Linked DNA regions of Homo sapiens. The protein of the gene in region 3 purifies or fractionates together with the protein of the main gene of each other region. This does not show direct contact. Each region holds a gene or a part of one and is shown on either strand. Other genes may lie near its edges.

Region 1 (3,511 bases), on a different chromosome or scaffold from region 3:
CCCTGAGAATCAGATTGACGTGTGTTCAAAGGGTATCTACCATTTATTAGTGGTGTCACTCTGGGCAAGCGACTGCCCCTGATTTTGATCTTTTCTGTCTTCATTTGTGCTTAACCACGTTATACTGTGTACCATTAGCTGTGGGTGGTAGGATTAGGCTTGCAGTTCTTTTAACCCATAGTATTGATAACTAGATAATTTTAGTTGGTTATAAAACTGTAGTGGTGGTCCAGGCGTTATAGAAAATCTAGCATAATTATGAAAAGGTTCTGGAGCCTGACACCTTATGTTCTAATACTGCCTTTGCTACTTCCTTGTCTGTGTGTTCTTAGACAAGTTACTCAATCTCTAAGCCTGTTTACCCATTTTTTTAAATGAGGAGAATAATAGTAATACCCATGGAGTTTTTTAGTGTGAGTTAAATGAGTTAAAGTCTATAAAATGTTTGTCTCGTGCAAGACATACAGCAATAGCCAACATTTATTGAATGTATACACTTATTATGAGATAACCAACTGTCCAGAATGATGTGTGGATACTTACTTGCAAGGCTGATTTTCTTATCTCTTTTCTTTGGAATCGTTACAGATATTGGCCTTCTGTATATGTTGGGAAACTGACTTTTCTTTGTTCCCCAGACAGTTCGTGGAAGTTATGGCTAGTGCTCTGACTGGTTATCTTCACACTATTTCTTCTGAAAACTTATTGGATGCAGTATATTCATTTTGCTTGATGAATTACTTTCCCCTGGCTCCTTTTAATCAGCTTCTGCAAAAAGACATCATCAGTGAGCTGCTGACATCAGGTAGGATGTTAGTGCAGAATTGGTCACCAATTGTGACCAATTCTGCACTACCACTAGCTACCATATGACTCTGAATGGGGTCTTAGTTGGAGCAGTGTTAGTTGAAATTTGCAGAGCAGGTGTTGCTGTGGAAAGGGCTGATAATGGTGAAGTCAAAGGATAGTGCTTCAAAGCAGCAAACCTACAGACCCTTCTTTAATGACAAGTCCTACATGTAGAAAAAAATAAGGAATGCATCATTATTCCTTTTATTTATACTCTATCCTTCTATACAAAGGCTAACTGTTCAGGCTGTTCTTTATGCTTTGATCAGAGCTGTTTTAATTCCTAATCCTTACTTATCACATTTGAAGCCAACCTAAGTCAATTTTTGCAGCTGTAAACACTTGGTCACTCCTGGCCTGTGATGAGGGAACACCTGTTAGATCAAGAAACCAAATAGCCACCAAATTAATTAGTTCATTTACTCTTGGAACCAAATTAACTGTTGACTTTTAGTCTTTAGTATTAAATAAGGCAAAGCAATATTCAGGTAGATGTACAAAATTTGACGATGTGTCTGAGAATAGAGTAGTTCAGAATTAAAACATAAATAAATAAATGTTATAAAATCCCAAAGTTGAGTTGTAGAGAGTCAGTCAATAATACCACGTGCTGGTTTTTCAGGCAGTGTAATAATGGAGAAACAGCCTTGAACCTTGGAAACCTGGATTCTAGTTCCAACTTTGCCTTAATTACGAGGCTTTTTAACTTTCCTGGGCATTTCCTTATCCATAAATTGAGGAGTTTAGACTAAATGACCTCTAAAGATATTTGAAGCCTTAAAACATTATCAAGTGCAGGGCTTTGATTTAGACCCTGTGGAAACCAGGGAGACAAAGAGAGAGTCCTTGTGATAAGAAAGAGATAATTAGAAATACAAGTGCATTTATGTATATATTTATTATTTTATAACTATTACTAAATATATACTAATATAGTTTTTTAATGTTGCATTTATTTCTTCTTAATGATATACTCTCTTTTTCATCTTTTAGATGACATGAAGAATGCTTACAAGCTGCATACTTTGGATACTTGTCTAAAACTTGATGATACTGTCTATCTGAGGGACATAGCCTTGTCACTCCCACAGCTGCCGCGGGAGCTGCCATCGTCACATACAAATGCAAAGGTGGCAGAGGTGCTGAGCAGCCTTCTGGGAGGTGAAGGACACTTCTCAAAGGATGTGCACTTGCCACACAATTATCATATTGGTATGGGACATTATATGATTTCCTTTCATTTTATTGTATTTATTTTCCTTTTTTTCTGACCAAAAAAATAGGTATTTGTGGCAGCAGTTTAGTGTAGTGCAGCATTGCCTCTGGAACTGGCCTGATTCTTGCCTCATAAAATTCTTGTGACCAATAAATGAAATTCTACACATTTTTATGTGTCTAAAATCCCAAGACTAGTATCTGACACATGGTTAGCTCTCAATATATTTTAGCTACTGCTATTATCATTATTGGTAGTACTATTAAACATTTTGAAACAGAAAATCACTTGGGGCTGGTCACGGTGGCACACGCCTGTAATCCTAGCATGTGGAGAGGCCGAGGCAGGTGGATCACTGGAGCTCAGGAGTTCAAGACCAGCCTGACCAAATGGTAAAATCCTGTCTCTACCAAAAAAATACAAAACTTAGATGGGCGTGATGGCATGCCCCTGTAGTCCCAGCTACTCAACAGGGTGGGGTAAAAGGATTGCTTGAACCTGGGAAGTTGCTGCAGTGAGCTGAGATCACACTACTGCACTCCAGCCTGGATGACAGAGCGAGACCACATCTCAAAAAAAAAAAAAAAAAGGAAAAGAAAAGAAAAAGAAAGTCACTTGGAGGAATGTTTGAAAAATTAATATCAATTCTTTCCTTTCAGATTTTGAAATCAGAATGGACACTAACAGGAATCAAGTGCTACCACTTTCTGATGTGGATACAACTTCTGCTACAGATATTCAAAGGTTGCTTACATATATTTCATTTGCTGGGCTTTCTGAATTAAAATCCTAATTCTAAAAGACTTCATATTAAATAGCAGTAGTAAATCTAAGACTTGATGTTTGTATGGAGCCTGCAGCACACCAAGAGACTTGTCATCCATCAATGTACTCCTTAGAAAGTGTAAATGTGGACGTTATGGTTGAATACAATGGACTACAGTATTGGTCATTTAATGAGACAGACATTTTTTTAAAATTAGGTTTTGAAGCTATAGTTCAATAAAACAATATTAATATAATTGAAACTATCAATGCAGTGTAGACTTTGGACAAGATAATATAATAGTGATCATAAAGAATAAAGACTCGAGGCTTCTACAAAAATCAAATACCCAATAAATATTTTGCTCTACCACCAAGACTTTTCCAGAGGTAGAGAAACCGTAGTTTTTTAATTAAACTGTATTTGTATGGGTTAGAGCACATTGAAGCTAATCCTAAGTTGTTTCTTTGGCTCACACATTACAAATAGAGTGTCTCTGGGGAGAAATATGATGCTATACCATGAGAGAACATCCTGCCTCTTCAGTAGATGCATAAGATCATGCCATCATTGCACACACCCGTGGGTCAGTTACCCTTTATGTAAAAGCTCTGCTACATGGATCCTGACCCCAAGGAACTTGTATCTTCTGTTAACTCCACTGGACACACACACACACA
Region 2 (2,555 bases), on a different chromosome or scaffold from region 3:
GTAGAGACCAGTCTTGTCATTTTGCCCAAGCTGGTCTCAGACTCCTGAGCTCAAGTGATCCACCCACCTCAGCCTCCCAAAGTGCTGGGACTATAGGCATGAGCCATTGTGCCCCACTCCTTCTTGGTCTTGACTTCCCCGTCTCTCTGCCCCCTGTCAAAGAACTTGTAAGAATAAAGTGTCAGTAGTTGATCAGATAGTCCTAGATTCAGAATTCCGAGATAACTTTTTTTCTACCCATTAAGATTTTTTCTGGCTGGGCACAGTAACTCATGCCTGTAATCCCAGCACTTTGGGAGGCCACGGCAGGCAGATCACAAGGTCAGGAGTTCAAGACCAGCCTGGCCAACATGGCAAAACACTGTGTACACTACAAATAGAAAAATTGGCCGGGCATCATGGTGTGTGCCCGTAGTCCCACCTACTCAGGAGGCTGAGGCAGGAGAATCGCTTGAACCTGGAAGGCGGAGGTTGCAGTGAGACGATACCGTACCACTGCACTCCAGCCTGGGCAACAGCAAGACTCCGTCTCCAAAAAAAAAAAATTTAAAAAGATTTTTCTTATGGTGGTTTCAAAAATGGTTGTGTGGCAGGCTGGGTGCAGTGGCTCACGCCTGTAATCCCAGCACTTTGAGAGGCCGAAGCGGGTGGATCACCTGAGGTCAGGAGTTGGACAGCTGGGTCAACATGGTGACACCCCATCTCTACTAAAAAAGACAAAAAAAATCATCCAGGAGTGGTGGCACGTGCCTGTAATCCCAGCTACTTGGGAGGCTGAGGCAGGAGAATTGCTTGAACCCAGGAGGTAGAGGTTGCAGTGAGCTGAGATCATGCCACTGCACTCCAGCCAGGGCAACAGAGTGAGACTCTGTCTCAAAAAAAAAAAAAAGGTTGTATGGCAATAAAACAAACAACTCACACTCACACACCAAAAAAACTAAGAGGCCAGATTTGCTTTTATCCTTGCAGACTCTGGCCATCTATGACCGGTTTGGCCGGTTGATGTATGGACAGGAAGATGTACCCAAGGATGTCCTGGAGTATGTTGTATTCGAAAAGCAGTTGACAAACCCCTATGGAAGCTGGAGAATGCATACCAAGATCGTTCCCCCATGGGCACCCCCTAAGCAGCCCATCCTTAAGGTAAGGTGGCTTGCATGGTTTAAGAGAGCTGAGGCACTACTCGTGGTCTCCTAAGCCACTCTGTCGGGCTCCACCTAGTGGCGAGAGGGGGTGATGCACCACCCAGGAAGGGAAGGCCGGGTGGGTGGGTGGGTGGGAGCAAGGGATGAAGCTCTTCTGGGTCAGCCATGGGCTTGGTTGGTGGGTAACCTGGCGTCCTACTCTTTCAGACGGTGATGATCCCTGGCCCTCAGCTGAAACCAGAAGAAGAATATGAAGAGGCACAAGGAGAGGCCCAGAAGCCTCAGCTAGCCTGATGACAAAAATGACTTCTAGGGTGAAGCCTGGGTGATGAGGCTGCTGGAAGCTTTGAAGTCTCCCATTCCCCTCATGCTATAAAAAGAACTACCTTTGTTCTCTCCCATCCTGCTCAGGTCTTTTCAGCAGTCTCATCATCAGCAACCATGACTGATGACTGGGCCCTAGCAGGTGGCAGGTATAACATGGCCATGGACACTCTTCTTTTTTAAATTTTATGTCTAGCTTCTGAGTCTAGATGAAAGACAGTATGTTTCAGAGAACATTGGATATCAGTTTTTCCCACAGCAGGGACTGTGAGAGACAACCAGCAGCATCCTCTTTGTAATCACAGGGCAGGGATCAGAGTTTGAAATGAAATGTTGTCAGGGTGTTGGAAAAATTTTGGTGAGTTCTGCACATTTCCCCTGGTTCAGGCTGGGCATGGACCAGCCTTCAGATGGCAGAAGTGGAAGATGAGCCTACTTGTGAGCGATGTGACTTTAAGGAAATGAAGACTGGGGAAGAATAATTAGTGTTTATAAGACATTTAAGAGGCCCTTTTTCATATACTGACTCACTGATGAATCAGCATTTGCATTTTATGGAAAAATATAAATCCAAAGAAATAATTTATCCCTTAGCCTTTGATTGTGTTCTTAATTATTAGCTGTATCAGGAAGTGTTGGGGGAGGCAGGGGCCATGGAGAGGTTGTTACATTTGGAAAATTTATCTGCAGTACTTGGTTCCCTGATTTCTAGCACCATTTGGAGATGGGGACTGTTCTTTCCAGCCCAGTATTGAAGGTGAGTGTACAAAAGTATGAACCTGTGCAGAGGAAAATAGGCCAGCCCCTCCTTGTTCCTTAGCTCCAGATGGGCTGTTAAAAGGGTGTGGGACCTCACATGCCCATGTGTCCTAGGCCATCTGAGTGTGACAAGAGAAATCACTTTGTTTTTGTTTTATTTTGTTTTTTAGAGATGGAGTCTTGCTCTGTCAGGCCCAGGCTGGAGTGCAGTGGCACGATCTCGGCTCACTGCAAGCTCCACCTCCTGGATTCAAGCTATTCTCCTGCCTCAGCTTCCCATGTAGCTGGGACTACAGGCATGTGCCACCATGCCTGGCTGATTTTTGA
Region 3 (5,385 bases):
TCCTTCTAAGGGTGAGTTACTGCCTGTTGGTAGACAGAGCCTAGCTGTCTTCCTGCCTGTGTGCCTGGCATTTGCAGATAGCCATCTGGGAATTAGAGTTGGTTGGTTTATCCTGTGGTCTGCTAGCATTTTGGGGAGCCAGGCCGAATTGTTCTATTAAACACCTAAGGGCTAGCTGGGTGCAGTGGCTCATGCTTGTAATCCCAGCACTTTGGGAGGCCAAGATGAGAGGATCCCTCAAAGCCCAGGAGTTCGAGACTAGCCTAGGCAACATAGTGAGATCCCTTTTCTACAAAAAATACAGAAATTAGCTGGGTGTGGTGGTGTGCGCCTGTAGTCCCAGCTACTCTGGAGGCTGAGGTGGAAGGACTGCTTGAGTTTGAGAGTTCAAGGCTGCAGTGAGCTATGTTTGTGCCACTGCGTCGCAGCCTGGGCAGCAGAGTGAGACCCTGTCTCAAAAGCAAACAAACACACACACACAAAAACTATCTAAGGTCTGAGTGTGGAGAACAAGGGGCATGCTTAGATCAGGGGCCTAAGACAGCTTGTAATTATTCCGTACTTCATCAGCCCCAGGTCTTGTAGTCCTGGCTTTTCCATGTCACTTCCTCTGCCTCCCATGACCCAAGCCTTTTGCCCAACAGCTGATGGTGACATGGGCCCAGGAGTGCCCCAGCTGGTGCAGACAGAGTCCCACCTGAAGGCCGGGCTAGGAGAGGCCATCTCCTGGGTTGACCTCTTAAACAGCATCTTGTACTTTTTCTTCATGACAGTTTTTACAGTTTGTAAACATATATTAAAATCATCTGTCTGTTCCGTCTCTGGCCAGTCCCCAGCTCCTGGAACACAGACCTAGACCCAGCACAAGCAGGCACTTGGTCATTAGATGCCCTGTGGCTGAATGCTCCCAAGATATGGACAATCAATCCAGGAATGACAAATTGTCTTACTTTTCACTGTCAAATCAGGAAGCCCAGGGTGTCGCCAGGATTTGTGGAAGGCAGAGTTTGGTGGCACACGATTGTGGGCGGGGCACAAGGGGTGAGCAGAGTGGGCCGTGTGCATCAGTGACCTCCAGCCCCGTGCACCACCCCCAGACCCCAGCTCCATGCACCACCCCCAGACCTGTCCACCACCCCCAGACCCCAACTCCATGCACTACCCCCAGCCCTGTCCACCACCCCCAGACCCCAGCTCCATGCACCACCCCCAGCCCTGTCCACCACCCCCAGACCCCAGCTCCATGCACCACCCCCAGCCCCGTGCACCACCCCCAGACCCCAGCTCCATGCATCACCCCCAGCCCCGTGCACTGCCCCCTGCCCCATCTTCATTTGAGTGCTCATCTCCCACGTGGGTGGATGCAGCAGAAGTCCTGGCCGTGGATGTGTTTTCGATATGGGGACAGCATCTCAGACCCTTACTTTTGCCTTCAAAGAAAGCATGAACGCCTGGTAAAAGCTGAACAGTGGGCTCTGTAGGTATCTGGTTCTAGAAAGCCTGTTCTCATGACCCATCCTCTCCTTGGAGACTTGTTCTTCACACAGTCCCAACCAACCCCTGTTTTCCTCCCTTTGCAGACAAAGGAGAGCTGTTTGTATGGGGCAAGAACATCCGAGGGTGCCTGGGAATCGGTCGCCTGGAGGACCAGTATTTCCCATGGAGGGTAAGGCTGGCCGGGGAGGTCTTGAGAATGGATGCTAAGAGTAGAGTCACCTGACGTCACTGCAGACACCTCGCGTGCAGATGGGCCAGGACGAGGGCCATGGGACCTGCTCCCCCTTCCGGGTCCTGGCTGCACTCCTGCAGCGCGGCATGCTATGTCATTGCACACTCTGTGGTGACACCCATGAGATACCCGTGGTGCATCTGCATGGTGTGATGCGTGGGGGAGTGACACCAGGCTTCTTGGGGTGCAGGAGCTGGGTCAACCCATCCCGGCCCACTGACTGGGAGGTTGGAGGGAGTAGCCCACTCAAGCATCCAGTCCTATAAGAAGCCCTGTCGGAGGCCATCCTTGGGGTGGATCGGGGAAACAGAGGCACGATGGTGCAAAGGCTCTGGTAGGGTGCCATGAGGCTCCGGAGAGGGGGAGATATTGGATGAAGTTGGCACGCTAGAAGCTGTTTACAGAAGCCCATGTGGGGGAATGCTTCACAATGAATTTAAAAGAAAGCAGGATGTTTAATATTTAGATGGCCCAACCGCAGCTATGAAGTGAAAAAATAAAGTCGCTTCCTTAGGGGCGGTAGTATGCAATTAGACAAAAAGGCTCCTTCCAGAATTACAGGGGAAGAGACGCTCATTCTAAAATTGTAGTTTACCTTAGTGTTGTTTACTAAGTCAGTTCTTTAAGGCATTCTAAAAAAGGAGGTTTTTGGGGTTTTTTGAACATGAAACATATGTTCATGGTACAAAAAAATGCACTATGGAAAATGAGTCTCCCACCACCCAGTTTTTGTTCCAGAGGCAGCCACTGGTCCTGATTTCTTTATGTTCCTTTCCAGAGATAGTCTCTGCATAGAGACTGGTGTGCATGCGTGCTTTGTGTGTGTGTGCCTGTGAGTACATACATGTGTGTGCAGTGTGCATATGGGTGTATTTTATCAGAAGGTTGGATTTTAATTTGTTTTGAAATTGTGAAAAGCGTTTTTAAAAAGGACTTGCACCAGGTGTGGTGTCTCACACCTGTAATCCCAGCGCTTGGGGAGGCCCAGGTGGGTGGATCACAAGGTCAGGAGTTCGAGACCAGTCTGACCAACATGATGAAACCCCATGTCTATTAAAAATACAAAAATTAGCCAGGCATGGTGGCACACGCCTGTAATCCCAGCTACTTGGGAGGCTGAGGCAGGAAATCACTTGAACCCGGGAGGCAGAGGTTGCAGTGAGCCAAGATCAGACGCTGCTGCACTCCAGCCTGGGCAACAGAGGGAGACTGTGTCTCAAAAAAAAACAAAGGACTTGCAAAAGAAATGTGTATATATATATGTGTGTATATATATATGTGTGTATATATATGTGTGTGTGTATATATATGTGTGTGTGTGTGTATATATGTGTGTATATATATATGTATGTATTTATATGTGTGTGTATATATGTGTGTATATATACACACACACATATAAATATATATACATATATAATACATTTATATTATACGTTTATATATATTAAATATATATATATATATATTTTTTCCAAGACTATCGGTGGAGGCTCTGAGAAAGCAAGTTGAAATGGAGACTTTAACTTTGTTTTTTTGTTTTTGCTTATTATGAGACAGGGTCTCACTTTTATCACTCAGGCTGGATTGCAGTGATGTGATCACAGCTCACTGCAGCCTTGACCTTCCTGGGCTCAGGTGATCCTCCCACCTCAGCCTCCTGAATAGCTGGGACCACAGGCGTACACCACCACACCTGACAAATTTTTTTATTTTTAGTAGAGATGGGAGTCTCACTATGTTGCCCAGGCTGGTCTCAAACTTCCGGCTTCAAGCAATCTGCCTCCCTCAGCTTCCCAAAGTGCTGGGATTACAGGCATGACCCATCACGCCCGGGCGACTTTAGCCTTGTTGGAAAGCTGTTTGTATAATAGAGTTGTTCCCAAGGTGGTGGGGCTTGCCGGCTTTCTCCTGAGCCTGGAAACTGCCGGTGTGAGGAACAGAGAGTCGGGCAGTGGGTGTGGCTCAGATAATGTGAGCATCAGTCATCTACATGCCCACTTGCTTTCTCACTGACTCCTCTCTTCTCTCACTTTGCCCTTTCTTTCGAAAAGGACTTCCTTCTGAGGGGGGAACTTGGGAAACAGTTAAAGCAGCCGGGTTTTGGGTGAAAGAACGCTGACGAGGGTCTGCCCCCCGCCCTCATTTCCTTCAAATCAGAGTGATCAGCCTGAGATTTGACTCAGGTCACGTTGCCCCTGCCATAAGGGCATGTGCAAAGCGCTGGTCCCTGTGCGGGCAGGGAGTGGCCGGAGCCCGATCCCGTTGACATTCCATCTGGGTCACTTGCCCTGGCTCGCCACACACCAAGTGTCCTTCTGGTCATTTGCTTTTTATTTTTATTTTTATTTTATTATTATTGTTTTGAGATGGAGTCTTGCTCTGTTGCCCAGGCTTGAGTGCAGTGGCATGATCTCAGCTCACTGAAACCTCCACCTTCCGGGTTCAAGTGATTCTCCTTCCTCAGCCTCCCTGGTAGCTGGGATTACAGGTGCATGCCACGACGCCTGGCTATCATTTGCTTTTTAAACACATTTGTGCCTTTGGGAAAAGAGCACCCCAGCCTGTCCCCGTGACGGCGGCATTTGGCGCCAAACCATTGTCCTTCCTCTTGCACATTCAGGGAGCCCCTAAGGGTTTGTGCACGGAGTGGCCTCGACCCCTGTCCTCTTTGGATTGGGGTGGGAGAGTCCAGTCCCTTCTGATGACTCACTTAAAAAAAAAATTACAAGTGATTTTTCTTTTCTTTGTTTTGTTTGTTTGTTCTTTTAGACAGGGTCTTGCTCTGTCACCCAAGCTGGAGTGTGGTGACAGGATCTCGGCTCACTGCAGCCTCTGTCTCCCAGGTTCAAGTGATCCTCCTATCTCAGCCTCCCGAGTAGCTGGGATTACAGGCTTGCACAACCACACCTTGCTAATTTTTGTATTTTTTGTAGAGATGGGGTCTTGCCGTGTTGCCCAGGATTTTTTTTTTTTTTTGAAAACAGGGTCTTGCTTTGTCGCCCAGGCTGGAGTATGGTGTGATCACACTCACTGCAGCCTCAAACTCCCAGGCTCAAGCTATCCTCCTGCCTCAGCCCCACAAGTAACTGAGATGTGGGATGGGATGACAGGCATGTGCCAGCACCACACCCAAATAATTTTTTTTTCGTTTTTTTTTTAAGAGACGGGGTCTTATGTGTTGATCTCAACCTCCTGGTCTCAAGTGATCCTCTTGCTTCAGCCTCTGGAATAGCTGAGATTACAGGCATGTGCCACCACACACGGCTTATTTTATTATTTATATTTATTTGTTTTATTTTATTTATTTGAGAGATGAGGTCTTCCTATGTTGCCCAGGCTGGTCTCAAACTTCTGCCTCAAGTGGTCTTCCCACCTTGGCCTCACAAAATGTTGGAACTACAGGGGTGAGTCACTGGCTTGGGTGATCTTTATTCTTTAAAACAACTATGTTCAAATTAATCTTCCGTAGGGGATATATTACATCATTTAAAAAGTATTCCAGAAAAGAAGAGAAAAAAAGAGTAAAACTTTACTTGTAGCTCATACACTGGTACCAACTAGTTATTCTTAGACTTGCAGAATTTGGCCTTTTCTGAGTATGTGGGCCCGGGAGGTGACATCTGAGCCACCTGATTCAAACCTCTGCTTCCAGA
Region 4 (3,511 bases), about 15 Mb from region 3:
AAAAACATTAAAAGAAATAGGTCGGACATGGTGGCTCACACCTGTAATCCCAGCACTCTGGGAGGCCAAGGTGGGCAGATCACGAGGTCAGGAGATTGAGACCATCCTGGCTAATATGGTGAAACCCCATCTCTACTGAAAATACAAAAAAAATTAGCCAGGCATTGTGGCGGGCGCCTGTAGTCCCATCTACTTGGGAGGCTGAGGCAGGAGAATGGCGTGAACCGGGAGGTGGAGCTTGCAGTGAGCCAAGATCACGCCACTGCACTCCAGCCTGGGCAACAGAGCGAGACTCCATCTCAATAGATAAATAAATAAATAAATAAATAAATAAATAAATAAATAGATATGAGCTATTAAGCTATGAAAAGATGAAAAAAGTTGCAAAAGTTTAAAGATAGTCATTGCATTGTTTAAAGTTATTTTAAAAAAACAAATAATACACACTTGTTTGCATAAAGAAAAAGTTGTCTATGAATTCCACCACCCAGAGATGACTATTAACAGTGTCTGTCTACCTGTATACACATTTTTTACAATGTTGTTTAGAGTGAAAAATTGTAGACAACCTGAAAGTCTGTCAATAGGAAATTAGTTAAGTAAATTACACTTCACCATTGAAAAGTGTTCACCTTATATGATTCAGTTTAAAGAGTAGGCCAAGCAACTATAAAGTAGTTTTCCCCTACTTCCTTCAAAAAAATATGAAAACTTGAACATTAAGACTCTATAAAAACTGCCAATTTTTTGCAGACAATAGAGGGAAAAAGAGCATGTTAAGTGTCCATGTAGGTGCTAGTAGAAAAATGAAGACTTTGGAAAAGAAACTCTGTAGGACAACTGACCCAGTTTCTTTAAAAATAAAATTGCAGATAGGAAACAAGATGGTAGGGGGAGCTTGAAAATAGATTTGAGACACACCGGGTATTTGTAACGTACAGACCTTACTTGGATTTCTATTCAAACCAAATTTTAAGAAGTATATTGCCAATGTATTAATATTTGTTGAAGCTAGGTGATAGCTAAATGGAATTCATTACACCTCTCTACTTTTGTATATGTTTGAAACTGTCTATAAAATTTTTTTTTAAAGCAGTTTACAAAACAAGGTAATGTTTTGTCAGTGTATAGCTGGAGTTAGAAAGTTACAGGTGTTTTTCTTTTTTTTCTTTAATTTCTGTTTTTTCTATGACTTCCAATGGGTTTTTATTTTTAAATCATAATTGGAATAATTATTATACACTTTAAATATTGAAACATCTTCAGTGTCCAGCATGAATTTATCTTTACCTTTTATGTAAGTGTATGTTCTCAAGTTTTTCAAGATTATTTATAATACATTTATATTCTACTTTTAATCCCAAATATATTCATGAAGTCTACTTGAATTGTTAGGAATTCAGAGATAATAATATTGACATTTGTGTATAATTTTATATTCTTGTTTCAGATTCCCAAATGCTGGAAAATCCTCTTTGCTAAGTTGTGTTTCTCATGCAAAACCTGCAATTGCAGATTACGCATGTAAGTGTAATTTGATTGTACATTTTAATGAGTGGAGGTAAACTTTTAAAGACTAATATTTCTCTGAGAATGAATAAAATGATAACTCGGAGGGTATCCTTAACTGAAAAATTTTTGGCAGATAGACTACTGTTGCACAGGCCAAAGTGCAGTTGCATGATCATGGCTCACTGCAGCCCAGGCTCAAGCCATCCCCCTGCATCAGCCTCCCATGTAGATGGGACTACAGGTATGTGCCACCATGCTTGGCTAACTTTTTTTTTTTTTTTGTGGGGACAGGGGTTTCGCCATGTTGCCCAGGCTGGTCTTGAACTCCTAGGCTCAAGTGATCTCCCACCTTGGCCTTCTAAATTGCTGGGTTATAGGTGTGAGCCACCCTCCCCAGCCATATTTTCCATTAATCTTTGAAACCTCTATACCCCTCAGCAAAGTTGCTTAAACAGGTTAGACACTTACTTTATTGCATTTATTTTTCTGTCACAGAATCGTTTATTTGGTTTAGTTAGGATTTTATGAACCACTTACCTTTTATCAGGCACTGTGATAAGTACCAGGAAGGTACTTATCATTCATTTAGCAGATACTTATTTTTGGAGCCACATTAGGTTCTGGGATTACAAAGACTGATAAACAGAAACAGCTCCTGTTTTGACTTGTATTGAGTTTGTAGACTAGTGGAGTAAGGCGTACATATCACTAATAAATATAAGGGAATATGAAAGGGTACTATGAAAGAGTATAGATGACTGCTCTAGGCTTCCTTAAGGATGTGTGATTTTTGGACTGGGATATGAGGAATAATTATGAGGTAATTAGTAAAATAGAGTGGAGGGTGAAGGGTCTTTAATCAGAGGAAATAGTATGTACACAAAGCCTTAGTGGTGGCAGGGAGTAGATTTGTGTGTCTAGAGAACATGAAATAAGGGAAAGAATCGAGATGAGCCTGGAGATGTAAGAGAGCATGTCACATAGACCATTTAGGCTGTATTTGATTTTTATATCTTAAGAGCAATTGGAAGCATTTAAGCAAGGGATAAAATGCTTAGGTTTGCTCCTCACAGAGATCTCGGCCTGTAATGTAGAAAATGGATTGGTGTGGGACATGAAGGGTCTGAGACAACCAGTTAGTAGGCTCTTGTGGTAGCTAGATGAGATATAAAAGAAGCTTTGGTTAAAAGTAGTGAGTATGATAAGATCTCTGCCATCATTAAAAGGACACAGAATGCCATTAACTTGGAAAATAAAATCAAGCCATTCTAAAATTAGACTGTGACGAAGTAGAGTGAAGTTTGGACTAAGTGCTATAAATCACAAGGCCAATATTTGTTATAATATATGTAGGACTTGAGAAGGAAGAGCAAAAAGTCATAGGAAAGAGGCTAGCGTAGGATTGATGAGGCTTAAGGATAACAATGAGAAGGAACTAGAGGATAACTGAATGAGAAGGAACTAGAAAAATTTCAGCCACAGATCCAGTGATAGAAACTTAATATCTGACCCTCCTGAACATCTATCACTCACCTTAAAGTGCAATAGAAGAACGTTGAGGTTCAGTAATTACATTAGGCCTATACAGATTATAAAAATCTGTGTTTGTCTTTTTCCAAATACTATTTATTCATTTATTTTAGAGACAGGGTCTAGCTATGTCACCCAGGCAGGAGTACAGTGGCATGATCATACCTCACTGTAACTTTGAACTCCTGGGCTCAAGCAATCCTCCCACCTCAGCCTCTGGAGTAGCTAGGACTACAGGTGCACTGCCATGTCTGCCTAGTTTTACATTTTTTGTAGAAACAGGGTCTCACTATGCTGCCCAGGCTCATCTTGAACTCCTAGCTTCAAATGATCCTCCTGCCTTGGCTTCCCAAAGCATTGGGATTACAGACATGAGCCACAACATTTGGCCCTCCAAGTACATATTAAATAGCAAAGATAATAATAGTTTCCATTTTAGCAAATTAGAACAAAATCTGAATTGAAATAT

What was found. The genes of interacting proteins can lie anywhere in the genome.
Region 1: the proteins of RCC1L (region 3) and FASTKD2 purify together in Homo sapiens (affinity purification with mass spectrometry; one study listed by BioGRID). This does not show direct contact.
Region 2: the proteins of RCC1L (region 3) and MRPL45 fractionate together in Homo sapiens (co-fractionation; one large-scale study listed by BioGRID). This does not show direct contact.
Region 4: the proteins of RCC1L (region 3) and GTPBP10 purify together in Homo sapiens (affinity purification with mass spectrometry, with the first as the bait; one study listed by BioGRID). This does not show direct contact.

What each region holds. Positions count from the first base shown.
Region 1 is NC_000002.12:206,786,095-206,789,605, forward strand, and holds part of FASTKD2 (FAST kinase domain-containing protein 2, mitochondrial), read left to right. Parts: intron 1-638; coding exon 639-805; intron 806-1,842; coding exon 1,843-2,061; intron 2,062-2,724; coding exon 2,725-2,809; intron 2,810-3,511. UniProt on the Homo sapiens protein: Plays an important role in assembly of the mitochondrial large ribosomal subunit.
Region 2 is NC_000017.11:38,321,157-38,323,711, forward strand, and holds the end of MRPL45 (large ribosomal subunit protein mL45), read left to right. Parts: intron 1-969; coding exon 970-1,143; intron 1,144-1,352; coding exon 1,353-1,439; 3' UTR 1,440-2,055; downstream 2,056-2,555.
Region 3 is NC_000007.14:75,048,992-75,054,376, reverse strand, and holds part of RCC1L (RCC1-like G exchanging factor-like protein), read left to right. Parts: intron 1-1,580; coding exon 1,581-1,666; intron 1,667-5,385. UniProt on the Homo sapiens protein: Guanine nucleotide exchange factor (GEF) for mitochondrial dynamin-related GTPase OPA1. Activates OPA1, by exchanging bound GDP for free GTP, and drives OPA1 and MFN1-dependent mitochondrial fusion. Plays an essential role in mitochondrial ribosome biogenesis.
Region 4 is NC_000007.14:90,370,705-90,374,215, forward strand, and holds part of GTPBP10 (GTP-binding protein 10), read left to right. Parts: intron 1-1,450; coding exon 1,451-1,524; intron 1,525-3,511. UniProt on the Homo sapiens protein: May be involved in the ribosome maturation process. Complements an ObgE(CgtA) function in E.coli ribosome maturation. Plays a role of GTPase in vitro. When missing, disorganization of the nucleolar architecture is observed.